2 separate regions of the Homo sapiens genome follow, and region 2 is linked to region 1. A link means that fine-mapping ties the variant in region 1 to the expression of a gene that starts in the linked region. Tissue or cell type: cerebellar hemisphere. Region 1 holds a variant in brackets; the other region holds the start of a gene. All regions are shown on one strand. Distances are between the middles of the regions.

Region 1 (8,107 bases):
AAACTAGCAATATGTTCCTGCAGGTTCTCTGTGCCTCAGTTTTCTCATCTGTAAAATGGACCACAACAATAGCTCCAACCTCATTACACTGGATGGATTAGAGGAGAAGGCACAAGTAAGGCTCTTAGCACAACGGCTGGCAAGCTGTAAGCTCTCAAATATTAAGATACGCATGCTACTGCTAATCATAATTTTAATTAAACTAGTACAATTATTAGTATAGGCTAGCCCAAATTTTTTAAAAGAAGAAAAGGATCTAAGAGATAAGCATTGAGGCTCCTGTGAGAATTGAGATAAACTGTGGTAAGGGATAACATGAAAATAATACCAGCTAAACAGCACTTTTTTGACCATTATTTTGGATCTGAAAGAAATCAAGAATAAATGAAGGACTTGATACATTGGAAGAGGAGAGTCAAGGACCTACAGAGGCAGGTCGAGATCTCCACTGTGTGGCCCAGATCTCCATTTGGAAGGCCTCTCAAGGTCACTAACATTCCTAGGCAAAATCTAGGAGAATCTGTCTCCTTTTCCAGATTCCAGGCACAGAAACCTGAAGGATAAGAACAAATTAGAGACCTTAATTTCATTTCAACAAATAAGAGACATTTCAGTGGTGAGCATTCCTCCCTTTCTACCTGGTTTCCTTCTCACTGCATGAATCATTCTAACTTCTGTTCCAGCTGTCTTCCTTCCATTGACTGACCAAGGCCCTCCCTAAGGCCCAGTTCTGCCTCCCACCCCACCCTGCTCCCACTCAGTATGCCAATTCGATCTCTAGCTCAGCCCTCTTCCCCTTCATCCAGCCTCAACACTCTAGTAGTCCAGAGAACATCTCCATGGAGATCCTGTGGCCCCTGACCCTAATGAGTTTCTTTTTGCCAGACAGCCTGCCTGCCTTTCTCAATTGTCCCGTTCCCATCAATAGACTGCCACAGGGGTCATGTGAGGAACTAGTCCAAGGAGCCTCCGTGCTAGACATCTAGCCAGGAAGAACTACAGTGCAGTAGAAGAAAAGAATCCTCCAAGCATGGAAATGGCCAATAGCTCCCTTTCCAAAGTCAAGACAGATATTCGAGAAATGTTTGGTAGGGTTATAAGCGTTATTTCTCAGTTCATCTTCCAAAGCTGTAGAGGCAGTACATTTTCTGGGAAAAAGCCTCAGTACAGAACATGCCAGCACTGCTTTTCAGAGAAAGATAGGCCCTGTCTGGAGCCTCATTACCTGGAACACAAAGTTTGCATGCCAATTTGCATGGAGATAAGAGAGAGGCCATGGAAAGAAAGGAAGGAATATTCACAATTTGCTAAAATGTGTGTGCCAGCACCTCTTTTTTAAAGAAAAGCAAAAAGAATATTGTAGAAAATTAATATTCCATTTCTCTAAGTCAAGTTCCTGTCTGTTCGGCAGGTTACTTTGTAATAAACCAAATTAATTGTCTCCCACATGCCTTCTAATATTTTATCAGTCCAGGCTGGGTGTGGTGGCTCACGCCTGTAATCCCAGCACTCTGGGAGGCCGAGGCGAGCAGATCACTTGAAGTTAAGAGTTCGAGACCAGCCTGGCCAACATGGTGAAACCCCATCTCTACTAAAAGCACAAAACATTAGCCAGGCCTGGTGGTGCACGCCTGTAATCCCAGCTACTCAGAAGGCTGAGGCAGGAGAACTACTTGAATCCAGGAGGTGGAGGTTGCAGTGAGCCGAGATCACGCCACTGCACTCCAGCCTGGGCAACAGAGTGAGACTCCATCTCAAAACAAAACACACAATAACAAATATATATATTTGATCAGTTCAAAAGATGCATTTTAAAGTGTAAGAATCTTAAAGTGGAAGTTGCAGCACTTTGCGGGCAACACGTTGGTAGTAACTGGCATTTTCAAGTGTGGGGAGGAACAACTAGTTTCCTGCCATTCAGTTCCTCATTATAACAGTCCTTTGCAATTTTCTCAATTATATTTTAAACAGGTCTGAAGATGCACTGGTGTATCTAGTTCTTTTTACACTAAAATTTGTCTTTGCAGAGCAAAGTCACAGCTGGGGATTGTGAAGCAATTACATGGCTCTAGAAGAAAGAAAAACAAGCTGGGAGCAATGACTCACACCTGTAATCCCAGCACTTTGGGAAGCTGAGGCAGTGGAGGATTGCCTGATCCCAGGAGTCTGAGACCAGCCTGGGCAACATGGAGAGACCCTCATCTCTACATTAAAAAGAAAATTAGCCAGGCATGGTGGTGCATGCCTGTAGTCCCAGCTATTCGGGAGGCTGAGGCAGGAGGATCGCTTGAGCCTGGGAGGTTGAGGTCGCAGGGAGCTATGATCGTGCCACTGCACTCCAGCCTGTATGACAGAGCAAGACCTTGTCTCAAAAAAAAAAAAAAAAGGAAAAATAAGTACCCATGGAAGGATAAGGTTCTGCAGCCTTTTCCTTTGCCATATTTTATCTCTCAAGCATAAGTGTGAAATAATTTCAACAAACCTCATTTGACACAAAGAAAAGTGGTGAAAACAGATATTTTAATTCAAATATGTGGCATTTCTTTCCATGGAGTCTTGAAGACCACACACATTTACAACAGATGGATTAGAAGAGGAAGCAAGAAGTTCTGCCTGCTATAGGAATGTGGCTACAGCTGTCTTAAGGCCCTTTTGTAACTAGTAATACATAAAGCAAATGATGTTAATGACCTTCGTTTTACCCAACCCCTCACTAAAAAGTGGAAATCATCAACTGCTCCACTTCCAATAAGATGTCTCAAATCAGTCCTGAATGTTATCCTAGGGAAAATACTTCAGGAATTTTTTGGATCTCTAAGTTAGGTGTGCACTTAGGTGATACGGGCAATACAAACTTTCAGGACAGAGCACACATGCAGAAGCCAGAAAGCAAGAAGCTGTGTTTAGATAATACAACACTGCCACCTAGAGGCCATACACTAAGGACTTGGACACCATCACCAAACAGGCTGAAAAGGTAGACAAGCTGCCTGTGCTTCGCAGCACATCTGGCTTAAATGAGTAAAGATACTGAGGAAATGTTACAGAGTAGTTAAATATGCTTCCTGCTCACTACCTACAAAGACAGGTGTTGAACTAGCCATCCAAGAAACCAGTTTGGTGATGGTTGTATTAAGATACTTGGAAAACAGTGTAAAAATCATACTTCCAATCTCATGAAAACATTTCAAAACTGTGAATTTATTACACACTGATTGAATGAATATGCATTTCTTTAATGTGTCAAATAAACCTAGGAACATGGGATATAAACCAAGGTAAACAGGCTTCCTTATTGCAGGTCTTCTCAGAACCTTTCATATTTGACTGTATGTAGAAAATCTCCAAAGAGAGACTACAGATTGCAAGTTTCCAAAACTTAACTATAGAATCCTTTTGTTGTTGTTGTTGTTTTCTTTCTTTCAAAACACACCAGTGAGCAAACTCGCCCTCCCTACTAGGAAAGGAAGGTCGAGTGGTAGTTTGCGGCTGCAGGTTATGGAATCAAACTGCATGGGTTCCCATTCTAACTCTACCACTTTACAATTGAGCCGTTCTGTATCTATTTCCCCTTCTGTAACATAGGAATATAACACCTACTTCCCAAGGAGTTGTGAAGATTACAAGGTAATACACGTAAACCACCTAAAATAATTAGTGGTGGTTGGCTTTCCCTTCAAGTCCTTCTTGGATGTTATTTGTATCCAAAGTATCCTAATGTACCGTTCCGGGAAGTTACTATTAACAAATAACACTCACCTGGCACGGTGGCTCATGCCTGTAATCCCAGCACTTTGGGAGGCCGAGGCAGGTGGATCACCTGAGGTCGGGAGTTCAAGACCAGCC[T/C]GGCCAAAATGGAGAAACCCCATCTCTACCGAAAAAATACAAAATTAGCCGGGTGTGGTGGCGCATGCCTGTAATCCCAGCTACTCAGGAGCCTGAGGCAGGAGAATCGCTTGAATCCGGGAGGTGGATGTTGCGGTGAGCCAAGATTGCGCCATTGCACTCCAGCCGCCTGGGTGACAAGAGCGAAATTTTGTCTCAAAAAAAAAAAAAAAAAAAAAACCTCTCCAGTTATGCCCAGCTGCTGTCCACATTCCCCTTACAGACTATGTTCCTTTGGGACCCCCAAGAGGGACAGGGGGAGCATTTAAACTAACTAGCTTACTTACTAGCTTAGATGGAAAACAGTGGTACTAATAATCTCTTTTGAATAACTGGAAGGGCTTTCAGCATTTGCAAAACAAAGGATAGAGATCCTTACCAAAGTCCAAAATTCACACACAGTGCTTTCTCCAACAATGCTTGATTTTATCTTTTAAATCATTTCTCCACACAGAACTCAAGATGTAGAAGGTAAATTAACTCCCAAATACCTCCAGCATTCTATATTGAGATATTATATACATGCATATATGTATGTGTGTGTATATATGAATGTGAATGGGAGAGGTGGTGGTATGTGAAATAGCTAAAATACCTTGCTGCTTAAGACTTTAAGGTATTTTTTAACCATCTGTCCTAGTTCTCTTTGAAGTAGACTGGTAGAGATCAACATCCACTGGGATGCAAAACATTTCAAGCAAAACCCTGATCATTTTATTCTCCGTTTTCTTCATCCTGAGTTGTCTCCTTTCACATTTACTTTCTATTTCACAATTAAAGACTTCTCCTTAATCACTGACTGAATTTATAATTTTCAGTAACAGGAAAACATAACATTTATTGGGCATCTATGTACCACATGCATCTTGAAATATTCTCTCCATTTAACCAATGGGAGCCTAAGGCCGGAGGCTGCAAGTAAAGGCATGCCACGCTGGGCTGCCAGGCCTGGAGGACAAGCCCTGTTTTGCCACTAATTAGATCTATGATGAGGCTGGCCACCCTTAGTGTACCCTCAACAGTGCCAGTTCACACCTGCTGCTCAGGCATCCTTACTAATGGCATCCCTTCCACTCTCAACAGTATCTGGAATTTAAGTTATACAGTCTTCCTAGCTACAGCCTCAACAAGGCTCCTTATCCCTCTGCACCTGTTTCCAAAATCTGAAAAAGAAGACAGGATTAGATAGTTTCACAAGAGTTTTTTCAAGCTGTTTCTGTGATTTCCATTTCAGAATTAAAACAGCTTCTAAAGTAGTCCAATTACAAAATTTAAAGATCTTTCAATCTGTCTTCCTCCCACTGATAAACTAATGTCTATTTTTCTCTGATTAGTTTAGACCCAACCTGTTTGTATAGACAAACAATTATTTAACTGACATTTAAGAGTGAGTCAATGAGTATGTCAGCAACTGGAGGAAACAGAAAACAAGCTGGAATCGGTACAATTGTTTAAGTGTGTTTTACTTCACTCATCTCCTCACTCCTTCTTAGGTTGGATTAACACATTAATGATGCCAGGACCAGGATACTCCCCACCATGTGTGAGATTTGTGTATATGAAACACCCAACCAAAAACATTTTCACCTGAGCTTAGATTTACTACCCTAGAGCAGAAATGGGCCAGGGGAGATACCTAGACACAAGGCCATGAAATTCCCACATCGGGATAGAACCTGAAGCTCTGACACATAAGAAACATTAACCACAGGAAGCAGCAAAAGAAAAAGAAATGGATGAGAAAACGGCAAAGTGGGACAACCCAACGTTCCGCCACCACCCTCCATACCTCAGGCAAGGAGAAACGCTGATTTTGGAGTAAATACATTTATTGATACCCATTTCATATATAGTTCAATGAAATAATCTATAAATATAAAAAGCATTTTTCTTTTGGATATCACCATGGTCCATGTAAATACTCAAGTCAGAATCACCTGCAGGAAGCACTCCAAGTCACACTGTTAGCTTTACAGACCTGAATATACATATTGCATTAAACAGTGGCACTTATGTACTCAAGTGGTCCAGTGGCTTTGGAATATATGTCTACTGGGCATGTGGAATAGAAATAATGTGTTAGGTTTAAATCAATGGAAAGGGTATCAACCATCAACAAAAGCAACAATTATGAATTCATATCCTAGGCAAAGAAAGTACCACAGTTGACACTTGGTGTCAGAATACTAGAGACAAAGTATGTAAAACAATGCCTGTTGCAGCACCACGTGCTCACTCCAACTCCCAGTGGACAGTCCCCCAATGCCTTAGGGTCACTCGTGGTCAACCAAATGCAATCAAGAAGCTCGATAGCTTAGAATAAAAGGTCTGTAGAGGCTGATATCAAGATTAAAGTAAGCTAAACATTTCAGTGACACAATGAGTTTCTCCCCTAGAAGGGGACTGTGGGAAAACTTTTAATTCCCTTTGTTACACTGAGCATGATCATTTATCTAATGCAGAAGAAAGAACCCAGACATCTGGTACTCAGAACATAGGTGCAAAAATTTTCTTCCATTTCAAAGTTTTTTCAATACTTCCGAGGGAACTAATGCAACCACCGTTGAGCCTTGCTCTCCACCTGATGCAGCATAAAATTTTCTCTCATTTCTTCAATATAGGAATGTCTTGCTGCAGACTATGTGTCTTCCGAGTTAGCAAGCAAATGCATTTAAAAGGTCTTAGTTGTGCAATGTCCAAAACTGAAATCTGAGAGGCAGTGTTAGAACTTAAGCAAGGCAGAATTTTTAGAGTCTACTCAAATGAAAGCCTAAGTGAAGCATATAAAAATTCAGTCTTTTCTATTATTTTCAACTGGAATTGATGGCAACATTCCCTGGTAAGGATGGGTAACTGGTGTTATCTCCAGGTCCAAAATATCCCAACTACTTAAAGGGGACCCAAAAGAGGAGAAACACACACTTGAGTTCTGTGGTCTCCAGAATTTTTTTTTTTTTTTTTTGCCATTTTCAAAAAAGATATAGTAGCTTCAGTTGTACACCACCAGTTGAAGGGGTTTTCATCCAAATGAGAAACTCTACCCCTTGTCTCTAGTGGAACAGGCACCAGATTCCCACAAGCAGCAGCTCCCATGTCCTGTAGCACGTGGCATCCGACCCTGGAGTGAAGAGTAAGCTGGCACAGAGCCCCGACGCTGGGATTCAGACTAGATGGCGTTTCGTGGCGTGCCATTGTGTGTCAGCGCTTTCAGACTGGAGGCACTAGTCTGGTGACCACAGCTCCTGTGAGAAGTCACACCCACCTCAAAAACCTCATGAATAGCTTTTCGGAAACAGTGGAAGTTGTAGTCTATTAAACCTGCAGGAAGGAAAAAGAAAAGAATGCCTCCTGAATTGTCAATTGTGAAATTTTATATTTGGGTTTGCAGCCAAAAATAACTCGGATAAACACTGGTTGGAAATTCTTAAGCCTCCAAACTAGATAGCAACTTCTTCAATCGTAAGAACAGCTGGTCATCGGTCAGGTGCAGTGGCTCACGCCTGTAACCCCAGCACTTTGGGAGGCCGAGGCGGGCAGATCACAAGGTCAGGAGATCAAGACCATCCTGGCTAACACGGTGAAACCCCGTCTCTACTAAAAATACAAAAAAAATTAGCCGGGCATGGTGGCGGGCACCTGTAGTACCAGCTACTCAGGAGGCTGAGGCAAGAGAATGGCGTGAACCTGGGAGGCAAAGCTTGCAGTGAGCCAAGATTGCACCATTGCATTCCAGCCTGGGTGACAGAGCGAGACTCCAACTCAAAAAAAAAAAAAAAAAAAGAACAGCTGGTCATCATATATATCCACCATCATAACGTTCTGCTAGAAAACAAATGCGATTGCAATTAGACCATCACCTTGGCCAAATTAATACCTCTGGCATCCAAGTTTCAAATCACTCAATTCACATTCAAGAAAAGTAAAATATTCAAATACACTGTGTGGCCTGCTTGAACATAGTGTGATCTTTCAATAGTTTATATTTGATTTGATGAAAGTCAGTAAATACTTATTACACAGCACGATAGAGGGTACAATATGTCAAAGGAAACAGCAGATATGGTCCATGACTTCCAGACAGGATATGCTAGCTGAGGCATAAAGCCAAAATACAAGAAACAAACCAAAACAATCTGGTGTCAAATTGACTACAACTGTGAAGGAAATCCAAAGAAAAAGCCAAGTGCAGGGCAAAGTAATCAACTGAAAACTTCAGGGACAA
Region 2 (8,107 bases), 100 kb after region 1:
TTTTAGTAGAGACGAGGTTTCACCATGTTGGCCAGGCTGGTCTTGAACTCCTGACCTCAAGTCATCCACCCAACTCGGCCTCCCAAAGTGCTGGGATTACAGGTGTGAGCCACCATGCCTGGCCGAGTATTCTCGAGTGTTCTTTTTTTTTTTTTTGAGACAGAGTCTCACCCTGTCACCCAGGCTGGAGTGCAGTGGCACAGTCTCGGCTCACTGCATGCTCCGCCTCCCGGGTTCACACCATTCTCCTGCCTCAGCCTCCCAAGTAGCTGAGACTACAGGCACCCGCCACCACACCCAGCTAATTTTTTGTATTTTTAGTAGAGACAGGGTTTCACCATATTAGCCAGGATGTCTCAATCTCCTGACCTTGTGATCCACCCGCCTCGGCCTCTCAAAGTGCTGGGATTACAGGCGTGAGCCACCGCGCCTGGCCCCTGGCCGAGTATTCTTAAATAAAACAAATACTACGAGTCTGTAGTAGAGGCACAGCACCCTTTAGTTTCTCCTGCCTAATCTCTCTTTACTTGCTATCTCTCAGGAACACAGCATTCTCTAACTGTCCTTTTGAACAATGGACCTTGTTCAATGAATTTGGGATGGACAGAGGTGTAACTTTCTTATAAAGCCAAAGAAGAGAAACAATGAAAACAGAGTTGAAAAGGAGAACTTAAAAGAATCCAGACAAGCAGATGACTTTTAGGCAAGAGTCCCTGCAGAAGCTGAGAATCTGGAAATGGACTCTTTTAATGTTATCTGTGCCCCCGCATCCCCAGTTCCAGGACCACTGGCTAGTTTGACACACCCTCACTGGGCACACTCAGAGCTAGATATAATTCCTGGAAACCCTTCTACACCTCCATCTCTAGCTCTCTGGCATAAGAAAGCACAAGGTATTGCAAGTAGTATCCTTGAACTTATTCCAGATTATACAAAAGGAAACTATTTATAAATTTCCAAACTTTTATTAGGAGGAACAGATTCACTGTGACCCAGTATACAGCTGAGGGCAAAGTACCAGTCATCAGGAACAGGCCAACTCAAGAGATCCTTCATGAACAAACCATGCTGAAGTCTTAAAAAGGAAGACTAATTTTCATAGATAGGTGGGGACCCATCAGGCCTGAAAACCTTGGCGTCTTCATATCCTAGGCCCCTACACATCAGCCTCACTTCTGAAATGCAAATCAGGTAGTGTCATTCTCATTGCTAATTTTTTTTTTTTTGAGACAGTGTCTCACTCTGTTGCCCAGGCTGGAGTGCAGCGGCACAATCTTGACTCACTACAACCTCTGCCTCCTGGGTTCAAGCGATTCTCCTCCCTCAACCTCCAGAGTGGCTGGGACTACAGGTGCACGCCACCATGCCCAGCTAATTTTTTTTTTTTAGTAGAGGTGGGGTTTCACCATATTGGTCAGGCTGGTCTCGAACTCCTGACCTTGTGATCCGCCCGCCTCGGCCTCCCAAAGTGCTGGGATTAGAGGCGTGAGCCACCGCGCCCAGCCAAAATCTTTTCAATGGGTATCCAATGTCTTTGGTTTAAAGCCTAGATTCCTTAACGAGGCACAGAAAGACCTCATGACCTGAACCCTGCCTATTTATCCACCTTCATTTCTTTCCATTTCCCCAAATATACCCTATGCCCCAGCCACACTGAGCCCCTAGCAGTTCCAGCTCCCACTCTCCATGAGGTCTTTTCATGAGCTCCTCCCTCTGCTAGAACATCCTCCCACACTCCCCATTTGTTGTCCCAGGGAAGTATTAACACCCCCTTTAAGACTCTGTTCCTTACTATCACATTTGGGATTAAGTTAAAGAAAAGAAAAGAAAATTTTTTAATTAAAGAAAAACAAAACTAAAAGACTCTGTCCTTTACAACTCCTCTGCAAAGCCTTACTGAGCATCTACCACATGCTTAGCATTGTGTTAGGCACCGAGGATGCATGGTAGAATTAAATGCCCTTCTTAGTTCCATCAGCAACCTCTGTTTGCATCTAGAGCATCAATGTCTTCTTTGTATTATAACTGTCTCCTCTACAAGGCTGTGAGCATTCTGAGGACAGGGCTTCCGCATTATTCATCTTTGACTCCCTATTACCTAGTCCATGGAATGCATCAGTAAATATTTGTCAAATTCATTTACTCACAAAGAATTCATTGAAAATTTTTGTATCAGGAATGAATGAGGTGCTGAACGAACAGGATTATAAAACTGAATGAACAGGATCATGCTTATGATCCCTGCCCTCTTGAAACTTTGTAGTCTCAGGGGATAAACAGAGCACTTGATTTAATGAATGATGTAGGAATGAGTGAATGAGTTAACGAATCAGGGAAGGAGTCTGGATGCAGCAGCCCAGAGCAGATCTACAGGAAGTGAAAGGCCAGTGTCTAGAGAGGTAGTTGGGGAATGCTGATGCCCTTTTGGTCTTTCTTTTTTCTTTTCCTTGAGAGACAGTCTTGCTCTGTCACCCAGGCTGGAGTGCAGCGGCCTGATCTCAGCTCACGGCAGCCTTGGCGTCTCAGGCTCAAATGATCCTCCCATCTCAGCCTACAAAGTAGCTGAGATGGGCCAGGCATGGTGGCTCATGCCTGTAATCCCCACACTTTGGGAGGCCAAGGCAGGTGGATCACTCGAGTCCAGGAGTTCAAGACCATCCTGGGCAACATGATGAAACCTTGTCTCTACCAAAAATACAACAACAACAACAACAAAAGTTAGCTGGGCATGATGGTGTGCACCTATAGTCCCAGCTATTCAGGAGGCTGAGGTGAGAGAATCAACTGAGATGGGGATGCCGCCACTGCACTCCAGCCTGGGCCACAGAGTGAGGCTCCACCTCAAAAAAAAAACCAAGTAGCTGAGACTACAGGTGCACACCACCACACCAGGCTAATTTTGTTTTATTTTTTGTAGAGAAGAGGTCTCACTGTGTTGCCCAGGCCAGTCTCAAAGTCCTGGACTCAAGCAATTCTCCCACCTTGGCCTCCTAAAGTGCTGGGATTACTACGGCTGGCGTGAGCCACCGTGCCAGGACTTCTTTTTTTTTTGAGACAGGGTCTCGCTTGTTGCCCAGGCTGGCTTTGAACTCCTGGCTTCAAGCAATCCTCCTACCTCAGCCTCCCAAAATGTTGGGACTACAGGCATGAGTCACCGCCCCCAGCCTGGTCTTTCTAATACAGAGAAACTTGAAAGACAGCAAGCACCAGAGCAAAAAGCATGGAGTTTAGAGTCTGACCTAGACTTGAATTCTGGATCCATTACTTATTAGCCATGTGACCTTAGGCAAATCCCTTAACCTGTTTGTATCTTCATTTCCCCATCTATAAAATAGGGTTAATAATAATATCATAAGAGGATTATGATTAAATAAGAGAATGCATTTAAAAGCCCTTAGCCTGCATCCATAGTTTAGGAATTGGTGGTTCCCATCACTTGCTCAGTGTTGAGTGTGCAAATTCAGAAACACAGCATGTCTGGACTCAGCCCTGGTCCAGTATTTTTACCACAAACCAGCACCTGACACCTTCCCTAATCCCATGCCTATGTGGCTCTCCCTTCTTTTTTATTTTATTTTTTAAAGACAAGGCCTCACTTTATTGCCCAGGCTGGTCTCGAACTCCTGGACTCAAGGAATCCTCCCGCCTCGGCCTCCCAAATCACTGGGAGCGAGCCATGGAACCCAACCTTCCCTCTCCCTTCACCACTCCACCCGTCACTGGCCAGTTCTGTTTACACGCTGCCTACGTGCTTTCAAGGCCAGGGGTTGTCTAGCATATCTTTACAAGCCTAAGGTGAGGGAGTTGCTGGTTAGGGAGAGGCATGGCAAGAAGGCAGTCAAAGAGGAAGGGAAAAGCACAGGTGTTTAGGAAGGCTCCACAATGAGCCTGGCACCCAGCTTGGTATTCAACATGCATTGTTCCCTGTCATCTTCATAAAAATATCATTTTGAGCTGGCCGCCGTGCCTCAGTTAACTCAGGAAGCTGAGGCAAGAAGACTGCTTGAGCACAGGAGTTTGAAGTTGTAGTAAGCTATGATCAGCCACTGCACTGCAGCCTGGGCAAGGTAGCAAGACCCTGTCTCTTTAAAAAAAAATTATAGCTGAGGAAACTGAGGCTCAGGAGGTAAACAGGAGATATGGGATAAAAAGCCAAGTGTCTTTGTGACTCCAAAATAATTTTCTGCTCTGCCATGCTGCCCACCAGCTTGTAGATGACCATCAAATGTTTGAGCAATAAGTTTCAGTTTTCTTATTCCCAAGAGGAGCAGAAATTGCGCAGCCCTCCCTCCAGAGAATCCAGGTATATGCTCAAACAGTGATGAATAAACAAATGAACACTAATGAATAAATGAAAGATTGAGTGAAATCTCTCTGATACCCACACCAGGAAGAAGGAAACAAATAACTCTGGAGGAGCCGCCTTGCGGGTAGAAGTGGAGACTGTCTCCCTGGCTGTGGTCTCCAGTGTCCAGGTCAGCAAAGGGCTAGGAACTGGCTTAGTTGGAGTTAGAAAAACTTAGGAGGGTAGGGGGTGCTGGGGAGAACGTGATGGCTGGAGGGAAAGCCAGTGTGAAGGGCAGGGAAGAGGAATGGAATTACTCTGTCCTCATCCTCAGCCCTTCCCTGCCATTTCCCTCGGGAAGATAGCCCCTGACTCCTGGCCCAACATGCTGCCAACTTTTAAAATGAAAGTAGCAGGATCCAAAGCGGCCACACCAGGAGGTCACTCCAGAAGGGGGGTTACCAGCGAAGCACCCCACATGTCCCTCCTCCTTCCTGCACAGCACCCCTCGGCCCTGCACTTCCTGCTGCCGCCCCCTTGTCCTGACATAGGACTCCCTCCACTCCCTCCCAGCTCCCACATCTTACCCTGAAAGACCAAGGTAGGGGCGTCCCAGCCCACGCCCTCCGGTCCTTGCGTTCCAGGCTTCCTGGGCCAAGGGGTTGCCCGCTGCCCTGAAGATCCCGCTCTGCCAGGCGCTCCTCCGTCCCTCCCCAAACAAAAATCCTCCAGACAGGTTCCAAAGCTGCCCAGCCCAGGAGGAGGGAGGCTGAGGAAATCCCCTCCCAGCTGGGCTGGGCCGGCCTGCTTGGCAGTCTTGCTCCTGGGCTGGCCCTGGATGAATGAGTCCTCCTCTTCGCCTGCTTGGGTCTTAGCCAGGGAGCCGGTGGCAGCCTCTGCTCTTTCTCCAGGACACTGAGCTCCATTCCTCCTCCAAGTCCTGCCCTCCTGCTTCATGCCTGGGTCCCCTGCTCTCCACTCTCAGCTCTCTGACGCCTCAACCGGGTGGTCTCTATCACTCTGCATTTGGTTATGCTCCAGTCTGAAGCCAGGCCTGTACTGGGCACCAGGGTGGGTGACTTGACGATCCTCAGCAGAGATTTAGTCCACAGAAGAATTGGTGACACCATGGCCCCTGGTGAAATAGCTTTGCCAGCTCTGATTATTCATTCAAAGCATTTTGAGAATAACTGGCCTTGTGTGAGGCCCTGAGGATGAAGAGGTAGATTAACGGGGTCCCTGACCTCCTACTCTACTAGGAAGACAAAGAATGAAGCTCTAAGTAGACGCTGCTCAAGATTCAGGCAGAAGGTGGCCAGGCATGGTGTCTCACGCCTGTAATCCCAGCACTTTGGGAGGTTGAGGTGGGTGGATCACCTGAAGTCGGGAGTTCGAGACCAGCCTGATCAACATGGAGAAACCTCATCTCTACTAAAAATACAAAATTAGCTGGGCATGGTGGTGCATGCCTGTAATCCCAGCCACTCGGGAGGCTGAGGCAGGAGAATCGCTTGAACCCGGGAGGCGGAGGTTGCAGTGAGCCAAGATCACGCCATTGCACTCCAGCCTGGGCAACAACAGCGAAACTCGGTCTCAAAAAAAAAAAAAAAAAAAAATTCAGGCAGAAGGGACCAGAGAGGAATCCCCCTGTGTGGAAGTGTTCTGGAAAAGCTCCTAGATGACATGACATACAAGATGGGTTTTGAAAGGTGAACAGGGGTTTTCCAGAATTGTAAGCGGGGAGCACACAGAAGGGGAGCACAGGCTGACAGAAAAGGCCATGGGAAGGGACGGAATTCAGCAGGAACTACTCAAAGTTCAGAATTGTGAGCAGGGAGTGTCAGATCATGAAGGGCCTTGTGTGCCTTGGTAAACAGTTTGGACTGTGTCCTATAGGTTCTGGGGAGTCATAGAAAGATTGTTTGTTTGTTTGTTCGTTTGTTTGTTGCAATACAGGGTCTCTCTGGGAGGCAGAGGTTGCAGTGAGCCGAGATTGCGCCACTGCACTCTAGCCTGGGCAACAGAGTGAGACTCCATCTCAAAAAAAAAGAAAAAAGAAAAAATAGGATCTCTCTCAGTTACCCAGGCTAGAGTGCAGTGGTGCACTCATAGCTTGAAGCAGCCTTGAACTCCTGGACTCAAGTGATCCTCCCACTTCAGCTGCCTGTGTAGCTGGGACTACAGGCACCCACCACCATGGTCAGCCAGTTTTTAAATTTTTTGTAGAGATGGAATTTCACTCTGTTGCCCAGGGTGATCACGAACTCCTGGCCTCAAGAGATCCTCCCGCCTTGACTTCCCAGAGCGCTGGGATTACAGGTGGTACACCACACCCTGCTAGCTCACAGATAGGCCTTAAACAAGGGACACAAACTATCAGACTGCATTTAAAATAGATCACTGGAGCCAGGTGTGGTGGCTCACACCTGTAATCCCAGCAATTTGGGAGGTCAAGGCTGGAGGATTGCTTAGGCCCAGGAGTTCGAGACCAGCCTGAGCAACATAGTGGCACCTGTCTCTACAAAACAAATTTTTTTTAATTATCCGGGCAATGGTAGTGTGCACATGTAGTCCCAGCTATACTCCAGAGGCCGAAGTGAGAGGACAGCTTGAGCCCAAGAGGTTGAGGCTGCAATGAGCTATGATCACACCACAGCACTCTAGCCTGGATGACAGAGTGAGACCCTGTCTTAAAAAAAAAAAAATTCACTGAGACCTGCAGTGTAAAGAAGGGTTTGAAGGAGGCAAGACTAGAGGCAAGAAAACCAGTCAGGGTTGCATGAGTCAGGGCAAGTGATAATGTAGGCCTTATCAAGGCATTGGCTAGGGAGTGGGGGTGGGAGTGAGAGAAAGAGATTCAAGAGATGCTAAGGGAGTACCATTGATGGGACTTAAAGAGTAAGGGAGGAATCTAGGATGACTCGAAGATTTCCAGCTGGAATAACTAACTAGGTTGATAGTGGTGACCACAAACAAGATTGAGAAATCAGGAAGAATGGCCAGGCGCGGTGGCTCACGCCTGTAATCCCAATACTTTGGGAGGCCGAGATGGGTGGATCACTTGAGGTCAGGAGTTTGAGACAAGCCTGGCCAACATGGTGAAACCCTGTCTCTACTAAAAATACAAAAATTAGCTGGGCATGGTGGCGAATGCTTGTAATCCCAGCTACTCAGGAGGCTGAGACAGGAGAATCACTTGAACCCAGGAGGCGGAGGTTGCAGTGAGCAGAGATCACATCACTGCAGACTAGCGTGGATGACAGAGCGAGACTCTGTCTCAAAAGAAAAAGAGTTGGGTGAGGTGGCTCACGTCTGTAATCCCAGCACTTTGGGAGGCCAAGGCGGGAGGATCACAATGTCAGGAGATCAAGACCATCCTGGCTAACACGGTGAAACCCCGTCTTTACTAAAAATACAAAAATTTAGCCAGGCATGTTGGCACATGCCTGTAGTCCCAACTACTCGGGGGGCTGAGGCACTAGAATTGCTTGAACCTGGAAGGCGGAGGTTGCATTGAGCTGAGATGGCACCACTACATTACAGCCTGGGCATCAGAGCAAGACTCCGTCTCAAAAAAAAAAAAAAAATTTCAGGATCAGGAAGAAAAGCAATTTGGGGGGAAATGAATTCTGTTCTGGACCTGTTGAGTCAGAGGCACCTGCGGAGATGTTCAAGGAGTAGTTGCTCCAGGGATAGACAGGAGTTATGTATCAGTCAGGGTACCAGCAGGAAGGAGAAGGCATCTTCAGCTAGATTTGAAGATCTGGGAAGGGTAAAGGAAGTCATTAAGAGATGTTGAATATCCAGGGATGAATGACAGTG

Which allele goes with the higher level. Positions count from the first base shown, and alleles are read on the strand shown. Sizes are in standard deviations (SD) of each study's normalised expression.
As copies of C replace T in region 1, the expression in cerebellar hemisphere of the gene that starts at base 5,021 in region 2 goes down (small effect, 0.27 SD a copy in GTEx).

Evidence for each region. PIP is the estimated chance that this variant, and not a neighbour inherited with it, causes the effect.
Region 2: it holds the start of RHBDL2, and the variant in region 1 is fine-mapped to the expression of RHBDL2 in cerebellar hemisphere (GTEx, PIP 0.93).

The regions. Positions count from the first base shown.
Region 1 is chr1:38,832,502-38,840,608 of GRCh38, forward strand. It overlaps RRAGC (Ras related GTP binding C), which reads right to left. Exons shown (of 7, transcript NM_022157.4): 7 at 5,697-7,203. The coding sequence ends at 7,052. Among named protein-coding and RNA genes, the nearest start is that of RRAGC, 23 kb to the right of the region's middle. The variant T/C (reference allele first, on the strand shown) is at 3,847.
Region 2 is chr1:38,936,810-38,944,916 of GRCh38, forward strand. It overlaps RHBDL2 (rhomboid like 2), which reads right to left and starts at 5,021. Exons shown (of 8, transcript NM_017821.5): 1 at 4,873-5,021.